Regions from separate parts of the Homo sapiens genome. Here all the other regions are linked to region 4. The links come from fine-mapping of genetic effects on gene expression. A gene starts in region 4. Each other region holds a variant in brackets. All regions are shown on one strand. Distances are from middle to middle.

Region 1 (5,000 bases), 20 kb after region 4:
GAAAATATTGATAGACTACCAAGTTATTATTCAAAAGGTAGGGGGCCCTCCAGTTTATGCTGCCACTGTTGTGACTATGACCCTTTACCTAACACTGCATATTATGAATTAAACTTTTCAGTCTGACAGGTAAAAAGTAATGTGTCATTGGTTTTAAAATTTGTAATTCCTTATTCATTGTTGAGAATGAGCATCCTTTTCTTTTCTTTTTTTTTTTTTTTTTTTTTGGTTTTTGAGACAGGGTCTCACTCTGTCACTCAGGCTGGAGTGCAGTGGCGCGATCATAGCTCACTGTAGCCTCGACCTCCCAGGCTCAAATGATTCTCACGTCTCAGCCTCCTGAGTAGCTGGGGCTACAGGCATGTGCCACCATGCCCAGCTAATTTTTAAGAAATTTGTATAAAGATGTGGTCTCACTATGTTGCCCACACTGGTCTTGAACTCTTGGGCTCAAATGGTCTGCCTGCCTTGGCCTCCCAAAATGCTGAGATTACAGACACGAGCCACTGCACTTAGCAGGGCATCTTTCATGAATGTTTCTTGCCATCTTTATTTTCTTTCTATGTGAAGTGCCTGTTTTTCTGTCAAGAAATTTGTTTTATTCTCGTCAATTTTTATGGAAAATCCTTTTTAAATAAACATTTTGATGTTTTACTGTGTTTATAAATAGTTTTTCCTACTCAGTCATTTTGGTCTTCTGATTTTATGGTATTTTTGCTATTAAATGAATATTTCTTTTCTTTTCTTTTTCTTTTCTTTTCTTGCTTTTTTTAGACAGAGTTTTACTCTTGTTTCCCAGGTTGGAGTGCAATGGCGCGATCTTGGCTCACTGGCACCTCCACCTCCCAGGTTCAAGCGATTCTCCTGCCTCAGTCTCCCTAGTAGCTGGGATTACAGGCAGATGGTATTTTTAGTAGAGACAGGGTTTCGCCATGTTGGTCAGACTGCTTTCCAACTCCTGACCTCAGGTGATCCGTCTGCCTCGGCTTCCCAAAGTGCTGGGATTACAGGCGTGAGCCACCACGCCTGGCCTAAATGAATATTTCTTAATACTTTGTTTTCTTATTTTTAGGGGACTTGAAATTTAACTAAAAAGACTGAGTGAGCACTTATTTTTTAAAACCCAAAATATCTTAGTGTATTAGTCTGTTTTTACACTGGTATAAAGAACTACCCAAGACTGGGTAATTTATAAAGGAAAGAAGTTTAGTTGAATCAGTTCCACATGGCTGGGGAGACCTCAGGAAACTTAACAATCATGACGGAAGACAAAGGAGAAGCAAGCACCTTCTTCACAAGGTGGCAGGAGAGAAGTGAGTGCAAGCAGGGGAAATGCCAGATGCTTATAAAACCATCAGATCTCCACTCAGTCACAAGAACAGCATGGGGGAAACTGCCTCCATGATCCAATCACTTCCCTCCCTTGACATAAGGGGATTATGATTCGAGATGAGATTTGGGTGGGGGCACACAGCCAAACCATATCACTTGAGTTACAGCGGATAGCTTGGACCCCATTCCTTTTACATCTAGTAGGTAGCAGTTTATCAGAGCTTGGGCGGTCTTTTTTTTCCTTAAATGAGGTTCAAATTTATTAAACTCTCTGTGACTGGACTGCGTGGTATCGAAAGAAGCCTTGGATGTAGGTTTGTTAATGAGATCTTTAAATGTTGACTAGTTTAGATGTTTTAAGTTCCTAATTTTTCATATGACTACAAAAATACTAAAATAATTTTACTTCAGTGACTTTGAGAAGATTCTCAAAATGAACTATAGGGGTGTTTTTTTCTGTTTTGGGGATAAATGAACATAAACAAAACTCCCCGAAAACCAGTGCGTGAACTTTTAAAAGTTCAAAAATAAGCCATGAGCTTTGTAGAAATTAGCCTTACTGATAGTTGTAAATAGTTAAGGTTGTCTGATTACTTAAAACTTCTCATTAACTTTTTATTTGTTGTGATGTATATTTATGAAATGGCTTTTTTTTTCAGTTTATTTCCACAAACATCACAGTAAAGAAAATAATTGAAGATTGAAAAAAGTATAATATTTAAAAAAAAAACCAAGTTGTTTTTTTTTTTTTTTTCAATGTATCTTAGAGAATCTTCTATGAGATTTGGGGGAGGAGTATAGGATGTCTAGGAAATGGCATTTTCAGGGGAGTTAATCTATTAGAAAAGTCATAATTAAAACTCTGAGTTAGTAGAAATCAAATATTGTTTAATATAATTCGTCAACTGAATCTGCGTTAAGACATTCAATAATTGTATTATTGTTTTGCCAGTTTAGTTATTTGATTGATGCAAACCTGTCATCTGTACAATAAAAAAATAGTGAGGTATGTCTATACTCTGTCAGTTTGTTTAATTTTAAAG[C/A]TGAAAGTTAAATTTTAGAACGCTTTTCATTTGCTTTTTTACCGTAAGTGGGAGCAGCTTTTAACTTCACGAAAACCACTCTCCTCAAAGTCATTAAAGACTTTCATGCTGACACATCCAGTCGTTTATCTTCTGATGCAGCAGCAGTTGATCACATCTTCCATCAAATTCTTCCTTCACTTGGTCTTCAGGACTGGCCTGTTGCCCAGACCTCAGGGTCTGATCCCAATACACACTCTTTTCTCCACTTATTCCCTAGGTGAAATATTTCATTTTTGTGGTTTTAAGTGCTAATATATTCCAAATTTACATCTCTAAGTTTGGCCCTTGTTCTGAACTTCAGCCCCATATAGCCAGTCCCTCATATCTCTATTTAGGTGCACTCTAGGCATCTCAAAGTGAGCCTGTCCAAAACTAAACTCTGATTTCCCACCACTGCACTCTCATCGGCACCGCACTCTCATCTGCTTCTTCTTCAGCCCTCTCCTAAGTCTTAGTGAACAGCAGCTCACTTTACCAATTGCTAATGTCCACAGCCTGGCATTCTTCTGGATTCCTTTCTTCCTCTCAGACCATGATCATATCTAATCTTAGCAGCAGATTCTGTCAGCTCTACTTTCAAAATATTTTTATAATTTAACCACTTTTCACCATCTTTGCTTCTTACTACTGAATTAATCCAGGCTAACTTCATATCTCCCACCTGGGTTGTTCCAGTAACCTCTTACTTAGTCTTAATTTATTTCCCTTGTCTGCCTTTGCCCCCTTACAGTCTGTTTCCTACACAGACATACACTTCTAAACCTTAAGTTAAATAATGTAATGTTTCTATTCAGACTCCCCAATTTTTTTTTAATCACTCAGTGTACCTTGACCTACAAACCTTATTCCTAATACCGTTTTTTCACTTTCTCATTCTGCTATAGCCACAAGGGGCCTGCTTGCTATTTGTCAGTTATGCCAACCAGGATTCTGCCTGGGATCTTAGTACTTGTTCCCTGGGCTTAGAATGTTCTTTCCCTACAATTAGGCTTTGCTCAAGTATCCTAGAAGTCTTTGTTGATTTACCCTATGTGAAACTGTGGGGGTAGCACTTTGGTGAAACAGGAGCTCCTCCCTAAATGGCAAGCTTTTTGAATACCTTGGCTTGAGTTTATTCGTAACTATCATGGTCACATTTCTTTGACAACATGTTCCATGCCTAGCAGTGATTCAGGCATTACAACCAGTCTCTTATTTCATTTGATTCCCACATCAGCAAAGGATATATTACTATTATTTACATTTCTTTTAGTTAAATAGTGTCCAGAAAGTTTAAGGAATTAAGAGTTACAGACATAGCGAAAGGGTTTTCTTTCTCCCTTTCTGCCTCCCCCAAGAAAACTACTGACGTGAAACTTCATATGAGTAGATATAGTTTATTTAACAGCTTTGCATTATTCTGTTGTCCGTATTCTATCTCTGTCCCTATCCAGAGATTAATAAATTGTATATACTTTTCCACAGTTACAAATGTGGATTTAATGAACAGTCTTGTCCATGTTTTCTTCTGTACTGATGTAAAATTTTTAGGATGAATACCTAGAAGTGGAATATTTAGATTCAGATTTTTTAGGTCCTGCAAAATTGATCTTGGAAATGGTTCTACCAATTTATATTCCAAACTTCAGTCTTCACCCTCCTCAATATATTCAGATTTGTTGATATGCTCTAAAGTATTTGAAATAATAATTTCAATTTGTTACCCTGATTTCCGTCGGTGAGCATGTTTTCATATGTTCATCTAGCCTTTACTTCCCTTTAATTGGATTTCTCTTTTTTACAGACTCAGCTGTGTATTAAACAGAATGTTCATTTTGTATTATTGTATAGTACAATGATTACTGATTGTTTAGTCTGCCATACTGCTGGAACTGGGTGTTTTCCACCCTTATTTTTATACAGCAGGATGAGACGCAGTGCCGCATAGTGGTTGAAAGTGACTTGTTTCAAAATTGCCAGAGTATGAATTCTGGCCCACTGGTATTAGCTCTGTGAACATGGTCCACTTACTTGATCTTCCTTAGGCCCCGTTTCTTCATCTGTAAGACAGGAACAGTAATAATACCTACCTTATGGGGTTGTTGTGAAAATTGGAGTAGATAACGCATAAAAAGTACTTATTAGCACAATGTTTAGCATAAGGCAGGCATTTATACTGTTGTTATTTGTAGTGCATTGTCATCATTAGTATTTGTGGGTTTTTTCTTTCCCTTGATTTTATATGTTTATCTTTGTATCATGTAATGTAACTTGTGGGGGGGGAGAGATTTCCAGCAACATGTTTAGGTTTAGTATTGTATGTTCTAGGTTGACTCTGCATTCTTGTTTGTTGCCGTTTCTTATTTTGTGTTCAATTATAGCTAGAAATGATAGTACCTTCTTCAAAAGTATCCTTATATGAGATTTTTTTGAACAGTGTAATGTTATAAAAACCCAATCAGTGATTTTGAGGTTTTTGTTTCATGGAACTTTACACATCTTACCATATTCTTATCATATTCTGTATCCCTGTCTTTGAGTTCATGCCTATTGTGTATTCCATTACTTACCTAAAGAATTTGTTTCAGAATGTACTTTTTAGAA
Region 2 (5,111 bases), 35 kb before region 4:
TGCTGTCTCGGCACACAAGCATAGAGGGACAGGGGCTGCTGGGCAAGTCTGGAAGCCTCAAAATGCAATCTGCCTGCTGCCCCCTGGATCTCGGACTTCCGGCCTCCAGAACTGTGAGGAATCAATGTATGTGGTTTAAGCTGAAACTACCCAGTCCACAGACAGCAACCCAGGCAGAATAATACAATAGCAATGTCAACACCACACAAAACTCTCCTGTCTCCTTGTAGATGAAGCAGCTCCAACCCACAGGCTCCAGTCTCACTCAAGGCTCACCAGAGATGCAAGCCTCACCCTCCCCATCCACCCCTGCATGCCACCATCCACCCCCATGCCCCCATCCACCCCTGCACACTATCCACTATCTACCTCTGCACTAAACCAGCCACCCTTACACCACCCCCCACCCCTACCCCCACCCCCATCATCCATCCCCACAATACACCATCCATTCCTGCCATTCACCCTTGCATGCCACCATCACCACCGCACTCAGCCATCCACCCCTGCACTCAACCATCCACCCTTACCCCTCACCGTCCACCCCATACCCCGTCATCCACCCCTGCACTCAACCATCCACCCCTGCTCCCCACCATCCACCCCACCCCTCACCATCCACCCCATCCTCAGCCACCCAATACTACCCCTCACCATCCTCCCCAACCCCACCATCCAATCCTACCCCTCATCATCCATCTCCCCACCATCCACCCATACCCCTCACCATCCACCCATACCCCTCACCATCCACCCATACCCCTCACCATCCACCCCATCTCAATCACCCAATACTACCCCTCACCATCCTCCCCTACCCCCCACCATCCTCCCCTACCCCCCATAATCCACACCTACCCCTCACCATCTGCCCCTACCCCCCACCACCCACCCTACTCTCTCTTACTCAGGACATCCACCCCGCTTCAGGCATCTGCCCAAAGCCCATGCATCCACCAACCTGCCTGAGAGAGCAAAGGACCCTCCACCTAAATTCTTATCTGCTCTTCAAGGGTTTCCATCCATTCCACTCACCCTCCGAGTTATCGCCATTGCAGTGGGTGAGACATTTCACTTGAGGGAATGAAGGGTTTTTTTGGTCCCCTCTCCCTTAAAAAAATTTCAGGGAGTTGAACGATGAAAAGCTGCCCTTCCCTTAAGACACACACACATTGGCCCAGCATAGTGTGCTAGGCAGTACCCTAGCATGCAGCAGGCAAATACAGGGCACCTGGGTCCACCTGAACTTCAATCAACCACAGATAATTTCTTAACTTATACTAGATTGAGATAACACTATATACAACCCTACTCTACTACCATGTATTAGATTATGCCAAAAAATAATCCATGGTCATTGTAAATGCACACTTACCTGGCACACTGTATTTTACTTGCTCTATCTGGCAACTCCTTCCATAAGGGAAGTCTGAAGTGAGCAGTCGAGCTGGGAGAGCAGAGTCATGCGGGGCAGGGGAATGATGGGGTCCCACAGCCGTGCCCATCAGCCCGTTGACCACATCTGCATGGCACAGGGAGAAGGAGGGGAGGACAGGTGGGTCCCGGCACGGCCACCCCTTCATCAGCCCATCAACCACAGCCTTCACGGCACTCATCCCATGAGCTGTCACCCAGCACCCACCAGGAACTGAACAAGAAGGACATGGCTGTGTCCTCAGGGAACTTAGGGAGGACAGTTATCTCCCCCACAACACAGTTCAATCAAATGTACCACGGGGCAGGTGTTAGTCTAATATTAACCAGTGCTGGGAACACTGCGTGATCTTAGTTCCTTCTTGAAAAGTTTGTTTTCAAAAAGCTGAAGGAAAATACATCACAGTGATACAGAAGTTGAACCAGCTCTGGCCCTGAGCACCAGGGCACCAAGCAGGTGATGGGGCGGCCCCAGTACAGGCAACAGCACGTGGGGTCTGGGGGCAGCCGGGGATCCAAGCTTAGCCTGGGCAGCATGTGAGGTGAGTGGCCAGCAGCACACCCCAGCGTCACCTGGAGCCTTGGTAAGTGAAGCTGCCAGAAAAAGCATGGATTAAGCAAGAGTTTATTTTGCCTGGGGTCATCATTTTAGCAACATAAACTTACGTCATTAATTTGCATTGGCATCTGACCATTTTGTGAAATGTGGAGTTTCTGAGGGCGGCAAGGCACCTAGAGTCCAGCAGCTTCCTGTGCTGCCCACTCTGGCAGAGACCCCAGGCAGAGAAGAAGGCGGCAGAGAGGTAGACTAGCTGATGAAATTTCTGATTTTGTAACTCAAGCCTTCTTTCTCATTAATTTTTTTCACTTCTCCCTTTTTATGGAAATAGAACATACATACAGAAAGTACACTTAAAGTATCAGCTTGATGAATTTTCACAGCCTGCACTCAGCCTCATCAGCAGAGCCAGATGAACAACCTGAACACACAGCAGCCCTGAACCCTCTGCGGGCCACTCCCAGGCACCAAGCTCTGGCACCCTCACTTCTGAAGGCAGAGAGTGATGTGCCTGTGTTTTTGCACTTTATACGAATATATTTTGTCTTACA[T/C]CTTAATTGCATATGTTATTTATCCCCAAGTTCCCTGAGGACAGAACCATGTCCTTCTTGTTCCTTCCTGATCAGTTCCTGGCGGGTGCGGGGTGGCGGCTCTTGGGATGAGTGCACGCTTGGTAGTGAAGGGGTGGCTGCGCCTGGACCAATCCGCTCTCTCTCTCAACCTCCCTGTGCTTGACAGGCTGCGGGCATGGCTGTGGGACACCATCAATGATTACTCTCCCTTTAACCCTTTCAGAATCAGCAACACAAGCAGTGCTTTAAACCCAAAAGGTCCCTTAGCACCAGGTCATAGAGATTTTGCAAAAGCCGTGGGATACGGAGCTGGTACAAGTGGAGTCTCTCTTATTCGAAATGCCTGGTACCAGAAGTGTTTTGAGTGTTTTATTGTTTCGTATTTTGGAATATTTGCGTATACATAATGAGACATCTTGGAGATGCTACCCAAGTTGAAACACAAAATAAATTCATGCTTTATATACACATAGCCTGAGGTAATTTTATACAATATTTTTAATAGTTTGTAAATGTAATGAAATTTTGGTTACATTGTGACTGCAACCTGTCACATGAGGTGATATGGTTTGGCTGTGTCCCCACCCAAATCTCAACTTGAATTGTATCTCCCAGAATTCCCACATGTTGTGGGAGGGACCAAGGGGGAGGTGATTGAATCACGGGGGCCGGTCTTTCCTGTGCTGTTCTCCTAATAGTGAATAAGTCTCATGAGATTTGATGGCTTTATCAGGGGTTTCTGCTTTTGCTTCTTCCTCATTTTCCTCTTGCTGCCACCATGTAAGAAGTGCCTTTTGCCTCCCGCCATGATTCTGAGGCCTCCCCGGCCATGTGGAACTGTAAGTCCAACTAAACCTCTGTTTCTTCCCAGTTTTGGGTATGTTTTTATCAGCAGCATGGAAACAGATTAATACATGAGGTCAGGTGTGGAATGTTTCACTTGTGGCATGAGGTTAGTGCTCTAAACATTGTAGATGTCAGGGCATTTGGGATTCCAGGTTTTTGAATTAGGGAGGGTCAGCCCGTATGGCAAAAAGCCAGGTGCAGCAGCCTCCAGTCTGCAGGCCTGAATATTGGGCTGCTAATGCAGGAGAAGGCAAGATTGATCTGATGTCAAATATTGAAGCTGAAATGTGTCAGTGCCCATGTGGATCAATGTTTCATGTGAGGACAATGCTGACATTTTTCTAACCAGCTGGATCATTTTAAACCATTGTGCTGAAAAAAAGACAATCAAAGAATTATGATTTTTTTTAAAAATCTCCCTAGCCTGTAAAGTTTAACACTGAAACACAGTCCTTAAGAATATCTTCTTCTAAGTGTGGTGTACAAAGTCCATTTCTGCAGTGGTTTGAGGCTGATGTGCTTCTACAAGATGGTGTTGTGGTCTGGCCTAGCTATGCAGATCCTTTTGTTTCTGTTTCTGGAAATATGTCAGGCATGTTGCCCTGTTGGTGTAATTTCCTTTAATTCATCCTCGGTCACCGTTTTCCAGGGCCTCTGGGCATGGGCGTTGATAACCTACGCCTGGTAACACCAACGTCTGTGAGCCCAGCCTGACAATGATTCTACCACCTGTCGATGGAGCAGGTTTCAGTGTAAACAAGCGTGTGAATAACTGCTGAAATATTGACGCTTTATTGCCTCCACGGAGGCCACAGTTTCCTTTATTTTATGATGGTACTTGAAATAATGTTTGATAAGAACCTGCCCAAAAGTCCTCCTCACATGGAGCATCTTAGAGTTTCAAAAGAAAATTGTTGAGGTTTCTGTTCAAATTCCAGAAGATCCAACTAGAGCCTGGGAGTCATCATCATGCTTCTGGTGGATTTTCTCCTGCTCACATCACAGAGTGTGATTCTGAGACCCCTCTAGCTGTCCCAGTCCCCTATGCCCAAATTAATTCATTCACTTCAGTGCTTCGAAAACTGTCTTTAATTCTCACAAGCCCCAAGTTGATGCATTCTTCTGAAATCCTTGCTTGATGACACTAAGTATCCATTCCCTGCCATTCTCTGTCACCACACGCTTTATATTTTTTCATTGCACATAGTAAAATATGTAATTTTATATTTGCTTTTCATTTTACTTTCCATCTCCTTCACCAATATGGAAGCTCCAGGAAGGGAGAGGCGATGGACTTTCTTCCCCTGTTGTTTTGCTACCATCACGCACACAACGCCTGAATTATAGTCGCTGCTCAATAAACATCTGTTAATGAATAGATGGTAGTGGCACAGGGGCCCGGCGCAGGTGAAAACCTCCCTGTATTCCTCTTTAGCTCAGCACTCAGGGCACATTCCTTCCTGTGCACAGTGGAAGGTAACTCTGCTGAGCCCTCTGTCACCGTAGCCTCTGCAGAGGTCCGGGCACACGGCCACCTCAGAGCCCTCCTGCAAGCGTAGCAGCCTCGCACGCCACCTGGAGAATGTGCACATGTGTGGGACTGGCCCTGGTTCCCACCACACTGGGAGGTGGCCTTTGCAGAGAGTTGTCATATAACAGCCCTGCCAAGGGGAGGGTGGGACGTCTTGGTTTCACATGGA
Region 3 (5,111 bases), 180 kb before region 4:
TGTCTGTTAACAACACTTCAACACACGGTACCCCTGACTTTGAATTCTTCTTTATTTTTCATTAAAGACTCTGCAGAAATGGATAATGAGTGGAAGAGTTGAGATCTGACCCAATCCAATGTATCTAAGTTTTTATTTGCTTTGCTCCAATAGGAAAGCCTGTTATTTTTAATGTTTCTATTTGCTTTCCTGTGTCATCTTATATATTATCACATGTTAACGATAGGTTCAAATTATAGAACCTTCCCCATATTTAACAGGAATCTCCACTTTTTTTCTTTCCTATTTCTCCCCAGCTAGACTTCAGGGGTTGATTCCAAAGTGGGAAGGTCCTCGTGTCCCCCGACGACCAGCACTGCTTCACTCCAGGTGACTAAGAAAGAAGGGGGCCGGGCGCGGTGGCTCATGCCTGTAATCCCAGCACTTTGGGAGGCCGAGGCAGGGAGATCACGAGGTCAGGAGTTCAGACCACCCTGACCAACATGGTGAAACCCCATCTCTACTAAAAATACAGTAATTAGCTAGGCGCGGTGGTGCGTGCCTGTAGTCCCAGCTACTCGGGAGGCTGAGGCAGGAGAATCACTTGAACCCAGGAGGTGGAGGTTGCGGTGAGCAGAGATCACACCACTATACTCCAGCCTGGGTGACAGAGCGAGACTCTGTCTCAAAAAAAAAAAAAAAAAAAAAAGAAAAGAAAAGAAAAAAGGAAATTATAGACTCTACTGGGGATAACATTAAAGAACATGCATTCAATGGGAGAACTGATGGCAATGAAATGAGCCAATGCCACCTGCATGCCGCAGAGTAGGGGAGCCCCCAGAACCCAACCATGCATCTGTCTCCGTCCACACACATGGGACCCTGTGGACCGGGGTGCACAGCACAGGCAACATACGTGAGGAAGGGTAGAGAGATGCTTCCCATTGAGCCAAGGACCATGCCTTCCTCCTGCGGGACAGTTTGTGATCACCATCACCCACAGGACCGTCTATACACTGACCTGAGCGGTAGTAGTGTGGTTCACCTTGAGATTGTATTTTCTACATTTTTACAAAGCAAGTAAAAATAAAAGAATAAACATAAACAGAACATCTGGCACCAGAGAAAGAAATTCAGACAATTCACAAAGTTGCGAAGGAGGGGAGACAGACACCTACACGAATTTGTTACAATTGTTATAAACTTTCTTAATATCTCACTGTCTGGACACTTGAGTCATTAATTCACTTTTTATCACAGAAAAGTTTAATATTGGACTTTAATTTCTTCAAGTCTTTTTGATCAAGAAACCTCAATATTACATCACAACCTCAGATTTTTATCAATCCAACTTCCTGTAAGCCAACAAAGAATATTAGAGAATTCAATGGAATTAATAGTAAAAATCGTCCAAATGAGATTTTTAACTTTCCCCCAAATTTTAAGTTAAGCTGTTTCTTTAGTTTCACATTATTGGGCTGCCAAAGAGCCAACTCGTGAAGGCATCAACACATCTGGAGTATCCTGCAAGTTAACGGGAATACCATGTCCACACTTCACTTCCACCTTCAGGGCTCCCATGGTGACTCCCAGTCATTGCTAGCCCAGGATCAGAAGTTTATATTTCCTCAAAAAACCAACACTGATCATTCAAAAAATAAAGAGAAAAGATGCAAATTTTGACTGAGTTTGGTAAGCCATGCCATGACTCCAAAACCGTTTTTGCATTTTGTGACCAATTTACAGAAACAGGAAGGAAGCACAGTCACATTCCTCTAGATGACTCAAGGAATAGAGTTTAACAAAGCTCCCACAGTAGGGTGTGATTTTGTCAGAATACAAAAAAGCTGATCAATGGCTGCTTTTTCATTTGGACCTAAATAGGACTGGGGCCAGCGATTAGTTCTGGATTCCAGGGGCAGAGGAAAGCATGCTGACCGGTGCACACATTATCGTTGTCCAGGGGCAGAGGGGAGCATACTGACCGGTGCACACATTATCTCTATTCAGGGTTAGAGGAGAGCATGCTGACCAGTCCACACTTTATCACTGTCCAGGGGCAGAGGAGAGCATGCTGACCAGTGCACACACATTATCACTGTCCAGGGGCAGAGGAGAGCGTGCTGACTGGTGCACACATTATCACTGTCCAGGGGCAGAGGGGAGCATGCTGACTGGTGCGCACGCATT[A/G]TTGCAAGGAGAGCATGCTGACCGGTGCACACATTATCGCTGTCCAGGGTTAGAGAGGAGCATACTGACCAGTGCGCACACATTATCGCTGTCCAGGGGCAGAGGACAGCATGCTGACCGGTGCACACATTATCGCTGCCCAGGGTTAGAGCAGAGCATGCTGACCAGTGTGCACACATTTTCGCTGCAGCTCATTGTAGTTATGGGGAGTTTTTCACTTTGCTTTTCATTTTGCAGCTGAATGCATGTGAGACAAATGTCCCTACCTGAAGGCTCCTTGAGCTCCTGGCCCAGACCCTTCGATGACCACCGCCGTGAAGGTCATTGGTCTTCCAGGAAGGGAGCCAGGCCCCCTGGGCCTCTTTCTCCTGGGGGGTGTGGCTCAGCAGCCCCCACTGGAGCTCATTACTGAGCAGCTTCTCCCTAAGCCTGAGGCACCCCTCCCTTCCTTTTCTGTCTCCTTCTGTACCCAGTGATTGGCCACCTCCACTTTTTCTTGGGAGTTGGTGGGCAAGAAGGGAAGAGGAGTTAGATCATGGCCAATTCAACTCCTTTTGAGACATTTCAATAAATTTGAATAATTTATTTCAATAAGGAACTGTGCCCTCCTCCTTTGCAGCTCAGAAATGCTGAGATTTGAGAGTCGGTCTAGCACCCAGCACCGAGGCCACTCTCTGTTGGGTCTAAGAATCCCTTCAGGGCCTGGGAGACACCCAACTGTGTCCTTTTCCAGAGTTCTTTGCACTGTTTTCCACTCCTCTTCCCCCAACTGTTCTGGAAACAAGTGCCAAAGTACATGCCACATGGAAGTAGCTGATAACCAGCTCCGTGTTTCCTGCTAAACTGGGACAATTGAAAGTTAAATTTTCACATAAACCATTGCCCCAGCTGGGGCAGACCCCAGGCCTGCCTGAGATTTATTTCTGCAAAGTCCTGGAAAACCCAGTAAACAGTATGAGAGTCCCCACAGTTGTGCGGTTGTGAGGAAAGCAAAAATTATGAAGCTGTCCACCAATAAAGGGACAGCCAGACACCCCTCTCTGCTTCAATGTCATGTCTGACTCTGCCCAGTGTGGCTACGTCTTTGGAAGTCAGTGCATCACGGAGCTGTCGCTGCAACAGGCTGTGGGACAGGTGACTCCAAAACTCCAACCTATGCCAGGAAACTCGATTCTGTGCTCACAACCTGCAGGTCCACAGTGGTTCATGTGATTAAAACTGACCCGGGATAGGCCGGGCACGGTGGCTCACAGCTGTAATCCCAGCACTCTGGGAGGCCGATGTGGGCAGATCACCTGAGGTCAGGAGTTCAAGACCAGCCTGGCCAACATGGTGAAACCCCGTGCCTACTAAAAATACAAAATCAGCTGGGAATGGGCGCGGTGGCACGCACCTGTAATCCCAGCTACTGGGGAGGCTGAGGCAGGTGAATCACTGAACCCGGGAGGTGGAGGTTGCATGAGCGGAGATCAAGCCATTGCACTCCAGCCTGAGCAAAAAGAGCAAAACTCCGTCAAAAAAAAAAAAAAAAAAAAAACCCGAAACAAAATCAAAACCTGGCCTGGGGCAGGTGGCTGTTTTGTAAGCGAGGTTTGCCTGGTCTTGGGTGCAAGCTGCAGGCTGGGTTTAAGTCTTCTCCTAGTGCCTCTCATCCTCCTTAGACGCATTCTTCTCAGGAGCCCAAGGTCCGAGCCAAGCACACGATTCATTCAGAGCTTCTGATCACATCATGGCCACCCACACTCCATTGGCCAAGGCCAGTCACATGACCAAACCCAAAGTCTGTAGGGCAGGGAAGGGGGAGCGGAGGGCAATATCTGCTGATACTCAGCTCAACACAGAAGGGCTGGTACAGCAGCTCCTCACTGGCTGGAAGGTTGAACATTGGTACACAGTGAGAACTAACTACAAAATAAAATACAAATCTCGCAGGAGGCATGATCCCGCATGAGACGGCTATTCTACCCTCACCCACAGAAACAAGGCTGGGAAGGTCATCTTCAGTTGGCAGTGGACGAGGAACGCAACACAGACCATGGCAAACCACAAATTCCCAGAAGATGATCTGAGTATCAGAGAGAGGCCCTTGGGAAGGCTGACACAGACATTCACAGAAGCTACCTAGGGTGAAAGGCAGGATCACGTCACGTAAAATTCTACTGGGAAAATGACACCAACCCCCCAACGCCCATTTGATTCCTTTCTCATTTCTTTTAAGTACTAGTCAGAAGTGAAAACTTAATTTTCCTGTATATGTGAGAAAATACATTTATGTGCCTATCTTCTGATTTTCACCTTTCAAGATAATGTCCCAAACCAAACTGGTTATCACTATTTTTTTGATTTTCTGGTACTCCCTTTAAGCAAATTCACCGTAAGTGAATAACAAGGACCTTCCGAATACAGGTACAGAGTGCAGGCTCTGCAACCAGGAGACTTTGGTTCCAATCCCCATGCGTCTTTGATCACTGTGTGATGTCTGGTGTGTTATTGAACCTCTCTGGCTGTGTTCTCACCCACTCCTCATTGAAAGGATTAGATGGGGCGATATATTTAAAACAGAATTCCTAGCATGTGGTAGCACTCAGTAAATGCTAGGTGTTACTGTTAAGATTACTAGACCATTCTTGGCACTTAAACTTTCATATATTCTCTTTATTATTTTAGGACATCTAATTGTAATAAAGTTTATATAACTGAACTAAGCAAATGTCCCGAACCAAAGCTGCCTACACGTTTCGGACGATACCTTTACCGGGCTTTCTGAAACTTTTTTATGGAAAAAGATTTTTCTGGAATTTTTCATGGAACTTTTGCTTTCCATAAGCAAAAGAGGATAAAAACACAGCAGAAATATGTTATTAATGCAAAAACTTAGCATGCACTGACAGGATATAATTAACTATCTTCCGAAGTTCCATGCAGCTGGGTGTAAAACACAC
Region 4 (5,102 bases):
GGAGTGTTCATGATTTAAGAATCATAGGTATTCTATGAATTTTTGGCTGCTCTTAAACATTTGTCAATAAACTAATGTTGGTTGGGACCTACAATAAAGTGTAGTTTAGATATTGATATACCACTCATACATAATACAAATGGGGACTTTTAATGACAGTCAGAAAAACGAGAATGATTCACATTAATTTCGAGCCTTCTATGTGTCCTGCATCACCCAGTAGGTATTTCACATATGCTATATGTTTTTTATTACAAAAATAACACTGCAGAGAGCCCATAACTGTTTTCCAGGAATCCTGAATTTTCTCTTTAGTGATGCTACACATACTTACTTTGGACATCAGCAATCTAACTGCCGGCTTTGCAAACTCATTCTTCAAGAGGCAAGTCATTCTTGGTAACAGCGTCCTCAGGAATGAAGCTCCTGCAGTTGAGGTTCAGTGAACGCTGCGTCAGGGATCTGCGCAGCACGTGTGGAACCCAATGAGAGTCCTTGCTGTGCAGGCACCGGGATGCTCACATAGTAAAAACTCGAGTCCATCGGGAAGCCCAGGAACTGAAAGGCATAAAGAAACCGAGTGCTAGAACACGAAGATGACATTTAGACACAGATGCTTTTCTGCAAGTCACCACACTTTAATTTTAAGAAAGGAGACTAGCGATCTATTGAATAATTCATTCCCTCATGGCACTGGTTCAACACCCCAGGCTCCTCTGCTGAGAAGCCTCCTTATGTAGCTGTACTGGACAAGTGCGGTAGAAAAGACAGAACCCAGTGGGGATGACAGAATTCTTTAATTGTCTGCAAAAGAGGAAATCCAGTTGGTGGAGAGAAAAATTATTTCCACATTGGAAAAAAAAGTAATGACAAAAATAAAAAGGCTTTGTCAAATATAGTTCACTCTTCTCATTACTTGCCTTAGTGTTTCAAAGATAAACGCTTTTTGTTACAACACATCACAGATAACGCAACTTCGCCTGACTGAACCCGGCGTGGGGAGACTGCAGAGATGGCGCTCTGCAGCCAAAACAAAGGGTGGGGGAGGGGAGGGGCAATTACAAAAAAGACACCTTATGAAAAAAAATCCCTACAATTCACAAAGCTTGCTACTGAAATTAATTTCAGGTTTCCACGTCCACGGGGACACGTACAGGATTTAAAATGACGATCACGTGGCATCTCTCAGGGCCAAATGGGGCGCATCAAAGCTTCCCCTCGACGTTTATTAACTCTGCAGTCCGTTCTCTACGTCTGCGAAGAATTGGCAGATAACGATGTGTCTGAGAGAAGAGGCGTTTTCTAAGGAGACACACAAAGGGAGTGGGACCCTCCAACCTCACTCTGTGAGAGGAACACCGCACAGCAGTGTGGGGGCTCGAACACCCCAAGAGCGGCAGAGCGCGGTTCAGAAAACATGACCCTTGAAATGCACACAAAGCCTAACAACGTGTCCTCCGCGGAAGAAAACAGCTTGAAAAGGTCGGCTTTGAAGTGACCCAGCGGAAAGGAATCACCCTGGAAGAAACACGCAGCAGCCCCGGGGCAATGCGCGGGCAGGAGGAGCAGCGAGCGCGGGGAGCGCAGGGCCCTTCGGAGAGGGCGCTCCACCGGCCCTGCGCTCCGTACCTGTGCCGCCACGCCCACCGGTCCCCTGCTGAGCCTAGCACCGCCCATTTAGACCCAGCACCACCCGTCCGGACCGAACCTAGCACCGCCCGTCCGGACCCAGCAGCGCCCATTTGGATACTGCACCGCCCGTCCAGACCCAGAACCGCCCGTCCGGACCCAGTACCACCCATCGGACCCAGCGCCGCCCATTTAGACCCAGCACCGCCAGTCCGAACCGAACCTAGCACCGCCCATGGGACCCATCGCCCGTTCGGACCCAGCACCGCCCGTCCAGATCCAGCACTGCACCCCCATTTGGATCCAGCACCGCCCGTCCAGACCCGGACCCGCCAGTCCGGACCGAACCCAGCACCGCCCATCGGATCCGGCGCCGCCCATTTAGACCTAGCACCACCCATCCGAACCGAACCTAGCACCGCCCATCGGACCCACCGCCCGTCTGGACCCAGCACCGCCCGTCTGGAACCAGCACCGCCCGTCCACAGATCCATCACCACCCATTTGGACCCAGCACCGCCCGTCCCCGCCCGTCCGGACCGAACGCAGCACCGCCCATCGGACCCAGCAGCGCCCATTTAGACCTAGCACCGCCCGTCCGAACCGAACATAGCACCGCCCATCGGACCCATCACCGCCCGTCCAGATCCAGCACCGCCCATTTGGATCCAGCACCGCCCGTCCGGACTCTGCACCGCGCGTCCGGACCCAACACAGCACCACCCATCGGACCCAGCACTGCCCATTTAGATCCAGCAGCGCGCGTCCGAACCGAACCTAGCACCGCTGGTCGGGAAGGAACCCGGTACCGCCGGTTGGGACCCACCACCGCCAGTCCAGACGGAACCCTAGCACCGCGCGGGGCCCGCCCTCCGACACCTCCCTCCCTGGCGGCCGCGGCAGCAGCACCTAGTGGAGCGGCCCGGAGGTGCGGCGGCGCCGCGCGGGGCGGCGGCGCGCACGGCGGGCGGCGGCGCGCACGGCGGCGGGCGGGGCGCGGGCGGGTGCGGGCGGCGGGCGGCGGGCGCCGGGCGCACACCGGCCGGCGGGGCTGAGGCGGCGCGGCGCGGCGCGGACTGAGCCCCAGGCGGAGGCCAAGTCGGAGGACGCGGCGCGGCCGCGGAGGCGGAGGCAGCCGCGGAGGCGGAGGCGGCCGGCGGGGGGTGGCGAGGGGCGCCGGGCCCCCGCGGACCTGTCGTCCTCGGCCCGTCCTCCGGCCCCGGCCCCGCGCGGCTGAGGAGGCGCGGCCAGGACCATGTCGGCGGGCGGCCGTGACGAGGAGCGGCGGAAGCTGGCCGACATCATCCACCACTGGAACGCCAACCGGCTGGACCTGTTCGAGATCAGCCAGCCGACCGAGGTGAGCACCGCCGGGCGCGGGGCCTGCGCGACCCCCGCCCGCTGCGCCGCGCCCCGCCCCTCCCCCCCGCCGCCGCCCGCCAGCCGCGGACCCGCCCTCCTTTCCCCCTCCCCCCTCCGCCCCTTCTCTCCCCTCCCCCTCCCCCAGGCCCACCGCGGGCCCCGGCGTCCCCCGCAGCCCCCGTCCCCCTGCCGCGGTGTATCCCGGGGTCGCGCGGGCCGAGCGGGGGCTGGCGGGGCGCGGCAGTCACCTGTTCCCCTCTCCGGCCGCTCACCTGGTGGCTCACCTGGGCCGCCGCCCCCACCCCCGCGAGCGCGGCGCGGCCCCGGCCTCATCCCCGGCGGCGCGGGGGGCGCGGCGGCGCGCGGGGCCGGCGCCCTCCACCTGCAGCCCGGTTGTGGCTCGCGGCGCCCCTTCGCCGTGGCCGGGATGGAGCCTGTGACGCGCGCTGTGCTTCGGGTTCATAAACTTGCAGGCTGCCAGCTGGGAGGGGAAAGTCAGTATCACAAAGTTCGGGAGGTGCGGGCTGCCTGATGGCACAGGCCCGGAGTCGGACGCCTCCGAGGAAAGGCGCGCCTTCTCCACCTTCGGGGCCGCGAGGAAGGGCCCTCTGCGGCGGCCTCTGCCCGGAGGGAGGCGCCGGCCCCAGGCTGGCTCCCTGAGAGGAGGAGGAAATCACGCTCGCTCCTGGCCTGGTAACAATGGGGGTTGTTTATAGCAAAGCTGCTGAAAGCGTTCCGAGCAGCTTTTAAAAAAATGTTTGAGTCCAAGTCCACTAGGAAGGGCTCCGTGGAGAGGGGAGGGAGGTGAAGGGTCGGGGAGCAACCCTGTAAATCGCTCCGCAAGGGTCGGTTCCGCGCTCTGTTCATTCGGTGGCTGCACAGACTTTACCAGCATAAAAAAATTTCACTCAATATTTGTGCCCGTTTAGGAAATCATTTTAATAGCGTCTATTTTTGATTTGTTGTAATAGGTAATTTATAGTTAATACTTGCTATAAAATACTAGCTCCTAGGCAACAAAACATGTTTGGCAGATTTGAACATTCTTACGAAATGTAATCCTTTTATCATTAAATTCCACTTTATGTTTTTGAGAGAATTTGACTATTGCTTCTCTGATTTCTTGAGTTTTTGCCAGTCATGGGAAGGACTCTATTTCTTCTGTTTTCATCTGTACCTGTGACTGCACTTGACGTGGGTAGCTAGCCATTTGTCTTAATACTGAGTTGAATACTGACACACGCCATTAGGCTCAGGTTGTCAATTTGAGCATAGATGTTATGTTAAGTTACTCCTGATTCATTCATCTTCTGTAATGATTTTATGAGTTAGGTTCTAGTAAGGGAGTTAGTACTATGTACTTAAGTGTTCGTTCATAGACTAGTGTATCTTTAGAAAGGTGACATGATAATTTAGTTTCAGGATTATGTTTTCTTTTAGAATAATGAATTCATTTTTCTTTTTATCACAAGGTAAAAAAAGTTGACCATAAAACATTTTCTTGGTGTGTAGCTTTTTTTTTTTGTTTGAATGGATTTTTTTTTTTTTTGAGAGATTTCTCAAGTCTGGTGGAAAGGAATCTTTTTTCGGTTTAATAAAGAGAATTCAGCTTTTTGGGATTTTGAATTGAGTTAGCATTAAAAAAATCTCAAATCAGAAACATTATAGTTCATTGATTTAATTAAATTCTATTTTAAGCACTCAATTGAAACTTTTTATTTCTTAGTGATATGACTAGTTTTTAAAATTGGCCTGTCATTTGGAAAGCTGTTTTTTCAGTTATACTGTAGGTGAAAGTTTGCTTTGTACATACACTGAAGCAAAACAAGAATTGAAGGACTTGGAAAAAAAGATGATATATTTCATTTCCTAATTTTTCTCCCTACTTATATCTGAACATTTCCATTTTTAGAAATTATTCTTCAGAATTGTATTAGAAGCCTTTCATAATGAAATGAATGGTTTTTAAGAATGTCCATATATTGGTTTTTTAGCTTTTTTACTATATAGTGGCTGGCTCACATTTCTATTTTGTTTTCTCGAGAACTTTCCTGTACTATTAAATTTATTCTGGTCCTAGTTAAGCTTTGCATTTAACATATTGTATCTTT
Region 5 (5,111 bases), 100 kb before region 4:
GGAGTGCAATGGCATGATCTCGGCTTACTGAAACCTCCACCTCCCAAGTTCAAGCCATTCTCCTGCCTCAGCCTCCCAAGTAGTTGAAATTACAGGCGCCCGCCATACCCACCTAATTTTTTTGTATTTTTAGTAGAGACGGGGTTTCACCATGTTGGCCAGGCTGGTCTCAAACTCCTGACCTCAGGTGATCTGCCCACCTCCCAAAATGCTGGGATTACAGGCATGAGCCACTGCGCCCAGCCAAGAAAACTTCTTAATGTGTGCTTATAAGGCCAGCACAGCCATTACACTAAACATCTGGTGAGAATATTACAAAAAGAAAAATTACAGGTCAATGTCTCTTTAAAACATAGACACCAAAAAAGAACCTGAATGTAACAACATAGAAAAAGAAAGTACATGGCAACCAAATTAGATGTACACCAGGAAGGCAAGGCTGGTTTAACATTTGAAAATCAATGAATATAATTCAACCTATTAGTAGAATAAAGGAAAAAGCCACAGCATCATCTCAAATGTGCAATAAAAGGAATGCAATCAAATTTAGCAAACATTTATAATTTAAAAATTCTTGGCAAATTAGAAATAAAAGGGAATGTCCATAATCTGATAAAAGGTATCTACAAAGGAAAAGAGCAGTATTCACCCAATATCGCAGATAATACGGAATACTGAAAACTTTCCCTCTGAGCCTGGCAGTGAGGGAGATGCCTCTTTTGACACTTCTATTCAACACTGTCCTGGAGGTCCTTGCCAGTTCTATTAAAAAAAAACAAAAAACAAAAAGGCAACCGTAAGGATTAGAAAGTAAGAAAAAAAAACCCTCTAGTTTGGGCAGATGACATAATTGCATATTCAGGAAATATAAAAGGAATAAATCAAACAAAATGTGCAAGAACTCTACATAGAGAACTTCCGCATGTTACTGAGATAAAGAGATCCAAGTAAATTCTGTGGTATTGGTGGACTGGAGCAATGGAACAGGAGAGTCCTGAACAAGACTCTCCTTGCGATGCTTGGTTTATGATAAAAGTGATTCTGCACAGCCGTGAAGAAAGAAGTATTTCTGTTATCTGTTGTGCATAACAAAGCATCCTAAAACTTAGTGGCTTAAAACAATAAGGTTTTACCTTTATTTTCTGAGAGTTGGCTCCACTGCACTAGGCTGCAATCCTAGGGACTAACCATGCTGGAAAGTTCAAGATGGCGCACTCACATACAGGAAGCTGGATACTGGCTGGGAGCTCAGTGCCTCAGTTATCCTCATGAGACTTGAGTTTCTCACAGTTTGCTTTTAAGAGGGAGGATTCCAAGCCTCGGGTAACAGAAACTGCAGATATCCCAAACCCCAGCCGTGAAATCACCTAGCATGTTATACACCATCCTGCTAGTCAAAGGAAGTCACAGATTTGTGTTCTTTTCTGCTTGTATATGACACTCCAATAAAAGTTATTTTTAAAATTTTAAACATCAAAAATTTTAGGAGATCAAATTTATCAATCTTTTATTTCTTTGTCTTTTGGGATCTTAAGAAGACCCATTCCCACCTCTGAAAACTGAAACATATTTTCATGTGTAAGTTTTAGAATTTTTGATACAACATTCAGTTATCTGAAAATTATTTTTGTCAATACCGTGAATTGGGATCTCTTCTTCCCAAACACATAAATGATTGTCCTGACAGCATTTATTAAATAACCCATAATTCCCCTTACTAATTTGAATGAGTCCGGACTCTTGACTTTAAACAATGAAAATGATTTTTTGAACCTGTATCACACAGATTCCAATCACTTCTCACTGTGTCTTGATATCTGATAGGGCCAATTTTTCACCTCAGTTCTTTTTCTTGACTATTCTGGCAACTTAAGTGTGCCTTGTCTTTGGTTTCACCAACCTTCAGCAACAGCACAATAGAAAAATATTTCATCATATGGTTTTACCTTTAATGTATATATACTTTGCGTAGAGAGTGTGACTCCCGCAAAGTGTTTTCAGGTTTCTGATCTTGATTTTCCGCAAACAGGGCATCATCACAGTCCTCAGGTTCACAGGTGGGAAAACAGAGAGAGAGGCTGCATGAATTGCCTGTGGTCCTACAAAGGAGACTCAGGACTTTGGGCCATTTGGTGGGTTCATGCTCATGGCAGAGCTGCCCTTCCCCACCCTCTTTCACGTGCTGGTCAATGTAGCCCAGCTCTGCTTCAGATTGAAATGCTCACCAGCATCAAATTTTCTCTATCTTGGTAAATTGTACTTTGCTCTGTGTTCAGCTGGTCTCCAGGTAGGAGTGCCCTGATAGAGAATTAGAGCCCTAAGACCACATTCTCATTCCATGCCACTGCTTGGGAACTGTACAAGTCTGCAAGATAACATGGAAATGCAGCCCCTGGGTCGCAATGCCAAGAGCCCTCTGAGATGCTGTTTGACGTTCCTCTTCCAATCCGTTTGAAAGGACCTGTTCCGTACTGACACTGTAGGTTCCTGAGCCAGCGCGGAAGGTTGCTCAGCCATTTAAAATCTGTC[T/G]GTCTCGATAGGAAATACAAAGAGAAAATGGAGGGTGATTGGCAGAGCAAATTGGATCTTCACTTGCCAATTCTCTTCTCATTTGCAAATATGCTAGTGAAAAGCCCAAAGCAGCCCTAAGCCAGTTTCATGAATCCAGCACTCCTGCCTGACAATTAGAGGCCCTCATCTGAAAATACTAACAAAGGAGTTCAGGCTTCTCAGCTGTTCACTCAGCTAGAATTTACCTTGAGTTCAAGAGAAGAAAATAAGTCCTGCTTTGGAAATGACAATTTGAGAGAACGACACCTTTCCAATTGTAACAAGACAGTGTTATTGACCCGGTTTTTGATATTATTATTATCAAACATAATTTAAGGCTGACCAAGAGTTCAGCTGAGGACACGTCCTTGCTAGGGTGGCTAAGTTTTCGTGTTTAGATAATCTCTTAAAGTAATTTCTAGAACATATTCTTTAAGTAGGATTGACTATAAATCAACACTGAAAATGCTGAAATAGAGTTGCGATGTGATACTAAGACCTAGACATTCTGAAATCTCAGCATCTTTCCCAGCTGTGGCACCAGCAAGCCAGACCCCAGGGGCCACCGGAATACTGGGGAAGGGACAGTGGCAGGAGGCAGAGGAGGCTGTGGGAGGGAGATAAGGAGACAGAAATAGGTCCTCTTTCTTCCCTTTTTTGTCTCTTTCTTGCTGTCCTTTTTAAAGAAGAAAAGAAATGGAAAACACTCACAAAGTGTTTCTCATAAATCAGGTAGTAAAGTTCATTCACTTATCCATAGCTCTGAGGTTCTGGAGACATGGCAGGAGCTAACAGAGCTGATGTCTCTCAGGACAGAATTAAACCAGATGCAGAAGGCCAACACAGGAGCGTTGTCCCCAATCCCAAGCTGTCCCTGCCATGAGGGCGCCCCAACTTAGTCATCCTTCCTCTGACACCCACCCCCACTGCATTGGTACCTGAAGATGAAGCTCTTCAAAGAAGGTCTGGAAAAACAGGCCTCTTGGTGTTTTCCACCCCACACTCCAGGGTGGCTCTGGGGCCTTTCTCTGGTTTTGTTCTTCATCTGAAACTGAAGGGCCATAACCATGGACTCTGGACTGCGCAATGCATGGAAACCTCACGGTGATGGTGCCTTAACCAGCTTTGAACATGAACTCGATGTAATACCTTTTATTCAGCTATTAAAAATGATAACTGAGATAGATGAGAACTTCCCTCAACTTGATAAAGAATATCTACACAAACCCTACAGCTAACATCACACTTACTGGTGAGAAACTCAAAACTTTTCCCACTAAGACCAGGAACGAGGCACGGTGTCGCCTCTCCAGACTCCTTTGCAACATCATACTAAAAGTCCCAGCTAATGCAATAAACAAATAAATAAAATATAAGGTATATAGATGGGAAGAAAGAAATAAAGTTGTCTTTGTTTACAGATGATGTAATTGTCTATGTAGAAAATCTGAGAGAAATGACCACAGAAAACACACCTGAAACTAACAAGCAATTACATTAATAGCAAAGTGGCAGACTGCAAGATAATATCCAAAAGTCAATCATTTTCCTACATAACAGCAATGAACAAGGGGGATCTGAAATTAAAAACATAATGCCATTGATATTAGAGCACTTGAAAAAAAAGAAATACCTTAAGAATAAATCTAACAAAATATGCAAAAGATCTATATGAGGAAAACCGCAAAACTCTGATGAAAGGAATCAAAGAAAAACTAAATAAGAAGGAAAATATTTCATGTCCCTGGATAGAAAGACTCAATATGGTCAAGCTATCAAGATTCTTCCCAACTTGATCTGTAGATTTAATGCAACCCCAATCAAAATCCCAGCAAGTTATTTTGGGGATATTGACGAACTGATTCTAAAGGTTATAAAAAGCGGCAAAAGACCCAGACTAGCCAACACAATATTGAAGGAGAAGAACAAACTTGGAGGACAGACACTACCTGACTTCAAGACTTACTCTAAAGCTACATCTTACTCTAAGAACACTCTGGTATTGGCTATATATATATATATATATATATATATATATATATATATATATGAGAGAGACAAATAGATCAATGGGACAGAATAGAGTCTGAAAATATATCCACACAAATACAGCCAACTGGTCTTTGACAAAAGAACAAAGGCAATAAAATGAAGCAAAGCTAATCTTTTCAGTAAACAATGCTGGAACAACTGAACATCCTTCAACGAATGAATCTAAACACAGATCTCACACCATTCACAAACATTAACTCAAAGTGGATCATAGACATAACTGTAAAATGCAAAAAACTACACAACTCCTAGAAGGTAACATAGAAGAAAACCTAGATGACCTTGGGTTTGGCAATGACTTTTAGATACATCAAATCCATGATTTATGAAAGAAATAATTGATAAACTGGACGTGATTCAAAAACTTCTGGTCTGCAAAAGACACTGTGAAGAAAATGAAAAGGTAAGCCAGAGGCTGAAAAAAATAATAATTGCAGAGACATATTTAATAAAGGACTGTTATCCAAAATGTACAAAAACGTTTAAAACTCAACAATAAGAAAATAAAC
Region 6 (5,000 bases), 120 kb after region 4:
AAATCTCGTACATAAGCACACACATTAGCTTCGGCCTGCACAGGGTCAGGATTATCAGTGTCACTGTCTTCCACCTCCACATCTGGTCCCACGGGAAGGTCTTCAGGGGCAGTGACATGCCATGGAGCCATCACCTCCTGTGGTGACAATGCCTTTTTCTGGAAGGCTTCCTGACAGACCTGCCTGGGGCTACTTGACCATTAACTCTTTTTATAAGTAAAGGGAGTACACTCTAAAATAACAATAAAAAATATAGTATAGTAAAATATATAAACAAGCAACCCAGTCGCATATTACATTATCAAGTATTATATACCGTGTATAATTGTATGAACTATACTTGTATACAGCTAGCAGTGCAGTCTGGCACGACCACAAACACGAGGAATCATTGTACTACAGCTTTACACTGGCTAAGATCATTTAGAAGATAGGGATTTTTCAGCTCCGTTTTAATCTTAGGAGACCACTGTCACGGATGTGGTTCATCATTGACCAAAATGGGCTTATTTGGTTCATGACTGTAATTCACTTAAACATCTTAATTATTTAAATAATTTATTTTCTGGAACTGTGGTTTTACAGCTACATCAAAAAGAATCTCAGGATAAAATCAATACAAATTTAGGGCTTTTAAAATAATTAGTTCAGACACAATAGGAGAAAACCATTGTGATTCATAGCACAACTTGTTAAATGTATACATAGACTTCTAAATATGGCCTTTATGGCTTTCTCCTCCGTAAGGCAGGATTCTAGAAACCTCACAACCCAGAACCTCAAGTTGGTACCTAATAGTAACAAATCACAGCCACAGCCAAGGCATCAGAGAACGTGACTTGCTGCTTCTTGAAGCAAACACACACCACCCAAGGGGCAGCTCAACAAAACCTCGTGTGGTATTGTCTGCCTTGCTCAGCATGTTGTTTACTTTTTATGTCACGTAGAACTTAACATCTTGGTTGTCTAATTTCTTAGTTAGTGGTCATTTAAAAGAAGCAAACTAGAATGTGAGTTAGAAATCACAGAGGGAAGCTGTGAATAGTAGATGATAAACCAGGGTGAGCAAGCAAAAAGGAGGAGAACTGACAGAAGCGGCCGCCAGGAGCGGAAGGCTCACGTCACATGACGGCTGCTCAGAACGATGACGCTGGGCGATTAAAAGTTCAGATATTTTTCTACAAAGTCAGGGAAACATATATATCTTTATTGATTTTTTTTTTAAAGATACTTTAAAAATGGTTAGATTTGTTGCTTAAAATAGTGAAGTTTCAGTTAATGAGAAAATAAGCTTTGAAAGTGTTTATCTTCCCATCATTACTAATTAAGTAAAAATATTTTCTTTATTCTCAGTATATTTACTTAAAAGCTGTTTTATGATTCTGTAGGAAGAATTGACCTTTATCACCTTATTTCTTATGCTAAGAACAATTCTTATGGAATTTTAATGATAATCAGGGTGTTGAAAATAAAATCTTAAGAGATACTGAATATGCTTTGATTCCAGTTTCAGATCGTCGTGGCTCAGGTAAACCCCGACCAAAGAGTGAAGGCTTTGAGCTCTATAATAATTCAACTCAAAATGGGTCTCCTGAGAGTCCTCAGCTGCCTTGGGCAGAATATAGTGAACCAAAGAAATTGCCTGGTGATGACAGACTGATGAAAAATAGAGCTGATCACCGTTCCAGCCCCAACGTAGCAAGTAAGAGTGACACTTTTTTGCTTCCTAAGTACACTTGTGATCACAGTCTGAAGTGAGAGGAGGCACTTTGTGGTTTGTTAATTATTAAAATTATTCTCTGCAAACATTGGCTAACTAGGATATGGTTTTCATAAGGGATATCATAAGTAACATTTCTCTAACAAAAACTAAGATGGAAAAACTTTAGATTCAGTTGATCCCATAAGCAAATACATTAATAACATCTCTATTTGGGGTTGGTAAATTACCAAGAGAAACTAAAATATGTTTTACATTTTTTTTTTTTTTTTTGAGACGGAGTCTCACTCTCTCGCCCAGGCTGGAGTGCAGTGCAGTGGCGCGATCTCGGCTAACTGCAAGCTCCACCTCCTGGGTTCATGCCATTCTCCTGCCTTAGCTTCCCGAGTGGCTGGGACTATGGGCGCCCACCACCACGCCCGGCTAATTTTTTGTATTTTTAGTAGAGACGGGGTTTCACCATGTTAGCCAGGATGGTCTCGATCTCCTGACCTCGTGATCTGCCCGCCTTGGCCTCCCAAAGTGCTGGGATTACAGGCTTGAGCCACCATGCCCAGCCAATATTTTTTACATTTTTAAAGGGTTGTTAACAAAGAGAAGAAGAAATAATAGAAGGATATGCAGCAGGAGACAAAGGCTCACAAAGCCTAAAGTATTTACTTTCTGGCCTATTACCAAAAATGTTTACCAGTCCCTGGCCTGATACACAGAGCTACAAAGGTTTTTTTGTAGCTCTGGGCTCTGATTATTTAAAAGATGGATGTGGATATGACAAGACCTGATTTCTTACCTGCCTTGATT[T/A]TTTTTTTTCATCTCTGTGCTGGATACTCACTAGCAGTATGAAGATGAATGAGGTCTTTAAGGAAATTTCATGTTATATATAGGTTGTTTATTTAATATTACACTTTTTTTTTTCCCCCCTGACTTGAGCAGATCAGCCTCCTAGTCCTGGAGGGAAAAGTGCATATGCCTCTGGAACAACAGCGAAGATAACATCTGTCTCTACTGGAAACCTCTGCACTGAGGTCTGATTGATTGATAAGCAAAAGGCTTCTACTGCATTTCCATCCTTAGGGTTCCCTTTGGACATCTCAGTTATCTAGTACAATTTTTACTCTGAATTAGCATTGATTATAATTTCTAAATTTGCAGTGTTTTATCTTTTGATTTTTAATATACTAGTCAGGTAAATCAGTTTTAAATTAATAAGTCTGGGCAAAATGAAATGTTATTTATTCTCAGTATGGATCAAACACTTTTTAATGCAGTATTTAACATATACTATTTTTTAAATTTTAAAACAGATCATTGAAAATCAAGTTAGTCTGTATGGTTGTAAAAAGCTCACTTTTTTTGTTCTTCACATTTTACAGGAGCAGACGCCTCCGCCTAGACCTGAAGCCTACCCCATCCCCACTCAGACGTACACCAGAGAGTATTTTACCTTCCCAGCTTCCAAATCCCAGGATCGGATGGCTCCTCCTCAGAACCAGTGGCCAAATTATGAGGAAAAGCCACATATGCACACAGATAGTAATCATTCCAGTATTGCAATTCAGGTTAGAAATCAAAGATTCCACACACTTTTCTCACCTCTCAAGGAGGACACACTGAGTTCTGAGACACAATTAATATTTTCTATAGAACAGCATTGTTGGCCTTTTGTTTTTCCTTTAATGGTTTTGTGGTTAAGTTTGAGGAAAAAAGGAGACAGGATAGAATACTTAATAAGAAAAAGGATTATCTGTTCTCTGATGTTTGATTAACAAAATGTTAGGAATATAAGGCCTTACAATTTTTAAGACAAAGTTCACTGATTCTAGAAGTGAGAAATTAGAACTCAAGTGGTGTATTTTGCACTGTATCAGGAGCTATCCCTGCCTGTGGGAGCTCATGGTGTGGCAGGGAAATGAGACAGACACAACAGACACAGCATGGTCAGTGCTGTGGGAGAAGAGGCCCCAGCAGGGGATGGAGCTTCTCAGTCTTGGACGAGAACCTGGGCACAGCTGTATGCACGGAAGGGCCTTCCAGGAGGAGGGAAAGGCACAGAGATGTGTAGTAGTTCAGCAGGAACCCTGGGTAGAGGGGAAAGGGGTGGCAAGATCTAAGGCAGTGAAGATAGGCGGGGCCAGACAGAAGGGCTTGACATGACAGCTAAGGAATTTGATTTTTGTCCACATTAGTAGACGGGTGATGCCAATCTGAGTAGTTAAGCTGGGGAACGTTATCCAATGTGGTTTTCTTTTTAGAGAGATAACTGTTTGTATGGTGAAGGATTGGGAGAAGAAATTAAAGGTATGCTTAAAAATAGTTACAGTCTAGGATCTGTGACAAATACATGCCCTGGATCGCAGACGCTCTAGGAATTCTGAAGATTAGCATTCTTAGAGTGGTTGGAAAAGACAGAATTCAGAGTTGAGATGGAATTTGAGCTGAGCCTTGAAGAATGAGAACAGTAGGCAGCGGAGAGAGGATTGCACTGAGGAGATGGACGCTGTGATACAGATGAGGAGGAGCCTGTTTTCTGACGGCAGAAAATGCTCCTCAGGCCACAGATGTTGGCTATCAGGAGATTTCATCTTGGCCTTTTGTCTGGTGTGCTGGTCCATCCTGCTGTTTTCCTAGGTGGGCCTGATCACCTGCAACGGCCCAGTCTTGGGAGTTTTGGATGCACTCTGTCACCAAAAGCTGGAGTTATCTGGGAGAAGGTGTCTTTCTCCAAATTTCTCTTTAAAAATTGAGTAATTTTGTGCCCTAGTCCTTCTAGTATCTTTTGTTAGAACGTAGGAGAATCTGCTTCCCATATGTCAAGACAACCCAATTTGTAGTGCATACATTGAATCCCATTTTTATGCACAGTATTTCCTGTTGTGTGGGGCTGGCATTACGTCTTCACATTTATAGTATACAGCTGCTACTTGTTTCTACCTCACATGGATAAACAATACCTAGAGGAGAGAGTTGAGGAACTGAGAGGCAGGCCAGAGTGTGGAATGAAAAGTTATGATGGGGTTTAAGCGAGGAGGTGGAGAGTGCGAGCCAGCAGCCGGGGCCAGTGCAAAGTCTTAAGGGAGCAGAGAAGTGACTCAGGTCAGCCCTTCCGGCAGCAGGGAGCGGCGGTAGGCACAGTCTCTGTTTTTATGTGGTCCATAGATTTTATACCCCAGTAATGAGACTCTGTGTACTAAGTAAAGCTCTAGCAAAATGTTGGGAGTAAATGTTCCATTTTTCTGTGAGACTACTGCTTTTTGAAGTGATACTTCATCTTTGTTGTTGG

Which allele goes with the higher level. Positions count from the first base shown, and alleles are read on the strand shown. Sizes are in standard deviations (SD) of each study's normalised expression. Not every link is listed here.
In carriers of allele A in region 1, the expression in Th1/17 cells of the gene that starts at base 2,663 in region 4 tends to be lower than with C alone (large effect, 1.1 SD a copy in Schmiedel 2018).
For the expression in NK cells of the gene that starts at base 2,663 in region 4, allele T in region 6 goes with a lower level than allele A (large effect, 0.80 SD a copy in Gilchrist 2021).

Evidence for each region. PIP is the estimated chance that this variant, and not a neighbour inherited with it, causes the effect.
Region 1: its variant is the best candidate, but not a certain one, in a credible set for the expression of AFDN in Th1/17 cells (Schmiedel 2018, PIP 0.61).
Region 2: its variant is the best candidate, but not a certain one, in a credible set for the expression of AFDN in blood mononuclear cells (TOPMed, PIP 0.68).
Region 3: its variant is the best candidate, but not a certain one, in a credible set for the expression of AFDN in whole blood (TOPMed, PIP 0.65).
Region 5: its variant is the best candidate, but not a certain one, in a credible set for the expression of AFDN in whole blood (INTERVAL, PIP 0.75).
Region 6: its variant is the best candidate, but not a certain one, in a credible set for the expression of AFDN in NK cells (Gilchrist 2021, PIP 0.62).

Annotation. Positions count from the first base shown.
Region 1 is chr6:167,844,644-167,849,643 of GRCh38, forward strand. All of the region lies in intron 1 of AFDN (afadin, adherens junction formation factor), which reads left to right. Among named protein-coding and RNA genes, the nearest start is that of AFDN, 20 kb to the left of the region's middle. The variant C/A (reference allele first, on the strand shown) is at 2,376.
Region 2 is chr6:167,789,572-167,794,682 of GRCh38, forward strand. LINC01558 (long intergenic non-protein coding RNA 1558) reads right to left here. Exons shown (of 4, transcript NR_026773.1): 2 at 1,376-1,522. Among named protein-coding and RNA genes, the nearest start is that of LINC01558, 4.7 kb to the right of the region's middle. The variant T/C (reference allele first, on the strand shown) is at 2,545.
Region 3 is chr6:167,645,752-167,650,862 of GRCh38, forward strand. No RefSeq gene overlaps it. Among named protein-coding and RNA genes, the nearest start is that of LINC02538, 31 kb to the right of the region's middle. RefSeq lists a silencer at 1,944-2,144. The variant A/G (reference allele first, on the strand shown) is at 2,170.
Region 4 is chr6:167,824,249-167,829,350 of GRCh38, forward strand. It overlaps AFDN (afadin, adherens junction formation factor), which reads left to right and starts at 2,663. Exons shown (of 34, transcript NM_001386888.1): 1 at 2,663-2,989. The coding sequence starts at 2,885. It overlaps AFDN-DT (AFDN divergent transcript), which reads right to left and starts at 2,548. Exons shown (of 2, transcript NR_027906.1): 1 at 1,155-2,548; 2 at 1-558. RefSeq lists silencers at 1,632-1,701, 2,616-2,815 and enhancers at 2,286-2,355, 2,386-2,465.
Region 5 is chr6:167,723,798-167,728,908 of GRCh38, forward strand. No RefSeq gene overlaps it. Among named protein-coding and RNA genes, the nearest start is that of LINC02487, 30 kb to the left of the region's middle. The variant T/G (reference allele first, on the strand shown) is at 2,530.
Region 6 is chr6:167,945,200-167,950,199 of GRCh38, forward strand. AFDN (afadin, adherens junction formation factor) reads left to right here. Exons shown (of 34, transcript NM_001386888.1): 27 at 1,508-1,702; 28 at 2,654-2,745; 29 at 3,094-3,279. Among named protein-coding and RNA genes, the nearest start is that of HGC6.3, 32 kb to the right of the region's middle. The variant T/A (reference allele first, on the strand shown) is at 2,522.